Linked DNA regions of Homo sapiens. The protein of the gene in region 1 interacts with the protein of each later gene in a pairwise test. Each region holds a gene or a part of one and is shown in the gene's direction. Other genes may lie near its edges. The genes, in order: CEP126 and FAM200C.

Region 1 (3,839 bases):
GCCTCAGCCACTCAATAACTACTATAGTCCTGCTCCTTTACTCCTTCATGCGAATAATAAAAATGCTGTCAAAGAAAAATCACAAAACAATACAGATTGTACCACTAAAGATTGATGGTTTCCAGCTTCACCTAAACAGGAACAGGGTTCTTTCTTTTTCCTATGAATGCCTCTGCCAGGTCTCTGTCACCTTCCATCACACTCGATAGACTGTCTTACCACTTGATAAGACTTGGATGCCCTGACAGGTCTGTTCCAACAAACAGCACAAACACACACACTCCCACCCACCTGTCTTTTTTTCCCCCCAGGCTCACTGATGGGATCTTACTTTTACTATAGAAAGTGAAGTGAACCCATTCAGCTGGGCCCAGTGGCTCACATCTGTAATCCTAGCACTTTGGGAGGCCGAGGTAGGCAGATTGCTTGAGTCCAGGAGTTCGAAACCAGCCTGGGCAACGTGGTGAAACCATATCTCTACAAAAAATACAAAAATTAGCTGTGTGTTGTGGTGCATGCTTGTAGTACCATCTACTTAAGAGGCTGAGGCAGGAAGATTGCTTGAGACTGCGAGGTGGAGGTTGCAGTGAGCCGAGATTATGCCACTGCACTCCAGCCTAGGCAACAGAGTGAGACCCTGTCTATAAATAAATAAATAAATTGTATTTTGCTAATACATACATAATAAAACATAGTTTTGTACCTTGTGTTTCTAAAAGGTACTGCCCCATGCTCATGAGATTTTGAAACTTAGGTACATAATACATTTCTAATGGCATATACTTTTGTATAACCCCCTTAGGAGCCAAGTTTTCTATAATGCACTAAAAGATATAAAAATGCATATGCCTTTTGTCCTCATATCTACCCCAGAGAATTTTCTCCAAGGGAATAATTCAGGAGGTTTTTATTAAATCATTACTATATTCTAAGAACCATGCCAGGCGTGAGAGTTACAGAAATGTAGAGAAGACACTTATCATGTACTCATGAAGGTGTCATCAAGTCATCTAGTGGAGGTTAGAAAAGGCTTCAAGGTAGAACGAACTGCTTGAGATGGCCCTGAAAGGATGAGTAGAGTTAGCCAAGCATGTGCCAAGAGATAATGGTATGATACATCACGGGTTGTTCTGTTTATAATTATCTTAGTGCGTCTGGACATAGGATTCATACAGGGAAATGTTAAGAAATAAAGTTGAAAAAACAAACTATATTATAGAATGGTTTATATATAGGTCCAAGAACTTTGGAATTTTTCATGAAGGTGATAGGGAGCTTTTGGAGAACAACAAAGAGAAACACAATCAGATTTGCATTTAGCTGACTTTGTGTAGGTTCAAATAGAGGTTTAGAGTAAGAAGAATTAGAGGAGCACTGTAGTCGTCCAAGCAAGGGATTTAGAGTACCTGAGTTAAGGGAGAGGAAGAAGGTACAGTAGAGGAAAAATCGAATCAACATAGCTTTAATAGATTTGGGGAAAAAATGGGTTATATAATACATAGTTATTTGTGATGGCAACATTTTAAACAACCTAACTGGATAAAAGACTAAGTTGGGAGAGGAGAAGTGAGGATAGAGTGGGGTAGAATAAGCTATGCTTTAAAATCACATGTTACAATACATATTATTCTTGGTTTTGTTTTTTTAATGTTAAGTATATAAAAATTCCCTTCTTTTGGACAGGTATTTAGCAGTGTTTTTTTTATGGAACTCCTACCTTTACCATACAGCTTGTATAAAAAAACAAAATTTAACCAGCCATCTAATTTTTTTAAACTTGAATACCATATTTGAAATGATACAAAAGCAGCAGGATTCTTTATATTAATAATTAATAATTCAGCAGGAAACATACTATACTATTATACTTATATATAAAGAAAGTAGAAAATCATTTGGTTAAATTGAAGACTATATAGTTGTCAGAACATTACAAACATTACATTTGTGATTTTCTTTATGCTGTCGTGATGAGACTTCAAACATGTCAAACAGAGAACAGAACTGTCTCCTCCTTGCTTCTCACTTAAGCCAAAGCATCTTCCTCCCCTCAACCTCATGTTGGCCCTGTGCACCCTGAAAGGAAGTTGCACTTTTCTTTACTGCCGAGTTGTCACTTTTAATACCTAGACATCTTGTTGAAGTCTGGCTCTTGTTAAAATATTCTATCAGAGAAAAACAGTTTTTCTGTGCTAGCAAAGAACCAAATTTTCTTCCCTTTTGGTTTGATTTTTATAAATCCTTTAAAAGAAATCTTTAAGTAAAAATATGTTTGTGAGTGTGTTTGGGTCTTTGTCTTGAAGTAGTGTAAAATTTTATTTAAAATGAAGGTAAAATGAATTATGGCCTATGGTATAAAGATGGTTAAATAGCAACACAAAAGAAAACAAATAAGCCCCCATCAGCAAAGGTCTAAACAACAAAATGTTCAAATAAACCTGTTATTCTGAAATATGTAATAATAGAGTTTCTTTATAATATTGATGCTGAAGCACTATAGGATCCTGAAATTAACATGTTGAATTAACAAATTATGTACCGCATAGTTTATTATTGAGTGTATTTCTAGTATTCTGTTTTACCATTAATAATCAATTTATGAGATTTTTACAATCTTGATTAAATGCAGCCTTTAAAGAGAATTTTGGACCTCCATCTTAGCGTAAAAAGTTTTTAAACAAGCTGTTTGTTCTAAAAAAGACAAATAGATATGCCCTACAATCTATAACTTCAGTATAATCTCATATATTTCTACATCTAATGATGAGGTACTAAATGTGATTACACGGTAATTCAATGAACTTTTTTTTTTTTTTTTGAGACAGAGTCTCGCTGTGTTGCCCAGGCTGGAGTATAGTGGCGTGTTCTTAGCTCACTGCAGACTCAACCCCCTCCAAGCTCAAGCGATCTTCCCACATCAGCCTCCCAAGTAGCTGGGGCTGCAGGCATACACCACCACACCTGGCTGATTTTTGCATTTTTTGTAGAGCCGGGGTTTCACCATATTGCCCAGGCTCATCTCAAACTCCTGGGCTCAAGCAGTCTGCCCACCTTGGCCTCCCAAATTGTTGGGATTACAGGTGTGAGCCACTGCGCCCAGCCAAATGAACTTCTTTTAATTCAAAATCATTAAAAACAGAAGACTCATGAAAAACAGAAAATTACTCTGACAAATTTGATAAAGATACTTAATAATGTCAATTAAAACGCAACTAAATAAATTGGAGAAATTACTCATATTGCTACAACTTATTTAAGGAGAGTTTAATTTTATAAAATAAATTTCAAGTGAATAGATGATTAGGATAACCAAAATATTCCTCTTTTTCTCTGACAAGCTTCTGGATACACAGATGACTATACATAGTTTTCCTAGTGGTTTTTTATAACCACTAAGTCACTAAGTAAATAACTAAACTGTATTCCTAACCATTCTAGTTATATTGCTATTTGATTGTTTAATATTTGAAAATGTACTTTCCTACTATAGATTAAGGGATCTGGTGAAACATTTACTCCATCTACTTTCTATTAGTAAAATACAATCTTCTTATTTCATTTTCTTATATTCATGACTATGAGGGCAACTTGTTAGTAAGTACTCAAATATCTGTGTAATGAGGCCAAGCACGGTGGCTCACGCCTGTAATCACACCACTATGGGAGGCCGAGGCAGGTGGATCACCTGAGGTTAGGAGTTCGAGACCAGGCTGACCAACATGGTGAAACCCCGTCTCTACTGACAATACAAAAATTGACTAGGTGTGGTGGCACATGCCTGTAGTCCCAGCTACTTGGGAGGCTGAGGCAGAAGAATCACTTGAACCCAGGAGGCAGAG
Region 2 (2,542 bases), on another chromosome or scaffold:
ATATGGTGTCTCTTGTCACAGATCACTGTTCTAGTTACTATTTATAAGAATTATCTAAAATACTTACAATACAGATTCTAGGCCCCCACTCCATAGCTGGAGAATCAGAATCTCTATGGGTAGGGCCTTCTACATCCTGTCTTTGGGTTAAACCAAACCTTAGGAATGCTGCTTATTTTGTGTATGTGCATGTGTGTGTTCTTGACTGCTTTCCCTTAGAGGTATTTAGGTGGAAAAGCATCATGAAATTCGTTATTTTACTTAAGAGTGTTCTCCTATGAGAGGGATTTTTCTGAAGTCTCGGTAACAAGAATAGTTGTGTTTCCCCTGAGCAAGTTGTTTTGCTTTTTTTTTTTTTTTTTTTTTTCCACAGAGACTTGCTCTGTCGCCCAGGCTGGAGTGCAGTGGCATGATCTTGGCTTAGTAGCTGGGACTACAGGCGTATGCCACCATGCCCAGCTAATTTTTTGTATTTTTAGTAGAGATGGGGTTTCACCATATTGCCCAGGCTGGTCTCGAACTCCTGAGCTCAGGCAGTCCACCCACCTCAGCCTCCTAAAGTGCTGGGATTACAGGCATGAGCTACCACGCCCGACCATTTTGCTTTTTTATATGGACACTATGAATCATGGACTGATAGTGTGTTACACTTAGCAGCAAGGAAGCTCTGAGCCAATTTGTAGCCTACCTTTGCATCAGGGGTGGCTTAATCAGACTTAAAGACCTATTTGAAATTCTCTGCCTAAGTTGGAGTCAAAACTGCTCAAGGTTCAAATAGTATTACAGACCTGTTTAGTCTTTAACTATTAAAAAGAACTACCATGTTCTCACTCATAAATGGTAGCTAAATAATGTGTACACATGGACGTGGATAATGGAGTGATGGGTAAAGGAGACTTGGAAGGGTGGGGTGGAAGAGTGGGGTGGGAGGGAGTAGATGAGAAATAATGAGTACAATGTATGTTATTTGGGTGACGGATACCCTAAAAACCCTCACTTTGCCACTATGTGGTCTATGCATATAACAAAATTGTGCTTGTACCCCATAAATGTATACAATTATTTTAACCTCCATGTCAGAATCCACCCTTCCTTATTTAGTGAATTGCTCCTTTATTCAGTGATTCTTAACTGAGGGTATGCATACATCTTTGGGGCTGAGTGGAAGAAGGTGGTGGTAGTGAGATGCCCTTTCTAGGGATACAAAATGTGCTAGATTTGTTTGTAACATACATTATTGAAAACAAGTTAAGCCATAACTATAATTCACCAATAAAGGACTTACAGGTGTTCATAACTTGTCTAAGCTCAAATCTCCCATATATAACTTGCTGGCAAATCATTTATTCCAGGGCATTAGCTATGAGTTGCTAGCTTTAAGTTGAACTATATCCTGTCATGGCTTACTTCGAATTGACATGCTGCAGGCTGTATCTTGACATATACAAGATAGCATGTGATGTGGCTTTGTTTTAATTCAGTTAGCCACTGGTTTTTAATGTGTGGGTTATATTTTACTCCCAAAGCAAAATTCTGTGGCATCTCTGGAATACTACCTGAGAATTTTTGTGTGCCATGTCGAAGAAACGCAAATGGGATGATGACTATGTTCGCTACTGGTTCACCTGTACAACGGAAGTAGATGGAACTCAGCGTCCACAGTGTGTGTTGTGTAACTCAGTATTTTCAAATGCTGACCTCAGACCATCAAAACTGTCAGACCATTTTAACAGACAGCATGGTGGTGTAGCTGGGCATGATCTCAATAGCCTGAAGCATATGCCAGCACCATCTGATCAGAGTGAAACCTTGAAAGCATTTGGAGTTGCATCTCATGAGGATACTTTATTACAAGCATCGTATCAATTTGCGTATTTATGTGCCAAGGAGAAGAATCCTCATACAGTAGCTGAAAAGTTAGTGAAACCTTGTGCACTGGAAATAGCACAAATAGTTTTGGGACCAGATGCACAAAAAAAGCTTCAGCAGGTACCCTTATCAGATGATGTGATCCATTCTAGAATTGATGAAATGAGCCAGGATATCTTACAGCAAGTTCTAGAAGATATCAAAGCCAGTCCTCTTAAAGTGGGTATTCAGCTTGCTGAGACAACTGACATGGATGACTGCAGTCAGCTAATGGCATTTGTGCGCTATATAAAAGAAAGAGAGATCGTAGAAGAATTTCTCTTCTGTGAACCATTGCAGCTATCCATGAAAGGAATAGATGTGTTCAATCTCTTCAGAGACTTCTTTCTGAAGCATAAGATAGCACTTGATGTATGTGGCTCTGTTTGTACTGATGGTGCCTCCTCTATGCTAGGAGAAAATTCCGAGTTTGTTGCCTACGTGAAAAAAGAGATACCTCATATCGTAGTTACACATTGTTTATTGAATCCTCATGCACTTGTCATAAAGACATTGCCTACAAAACTGAGGGATGCTCTGTTTACTGTGGTGAGGGTAATAAATTTCATCAAAGGGAGAGCTCCAAATCATCGCCTATTTCAGGCTTTCTTTGAAGAAATTGGCATAGAATATA

The links.
Region 2: the proteins of CEP126 (region 1) and FAM200C interact in a two-hybrid assay, tested with the Homo sapiens proteins (one large-scale study listed by BioGRID and IntAct).

The regions. Positions count from the first base shown.
Region 1 is NC_000011.10:101,917,804-101,921,642, forward strand, and holds part of CEP126 (centrosomal protein of 126 kDa), read left to right. Parts: intron 1-3,839. UniProt on the Homo sapiens protein: Participates in cytokinesis. Necessary for microtubules and mitotic spindle organization. Involved in primary cilium formation.
Region 2 is NC_000005.10:160,394,524-160,397,065, reverse strand, and holds part of FAM200C (protein FAM200C), read left to right. Parts: intron 1-1,526; 5' UTR 1,527-1,575; coding exon 1,576-2,542.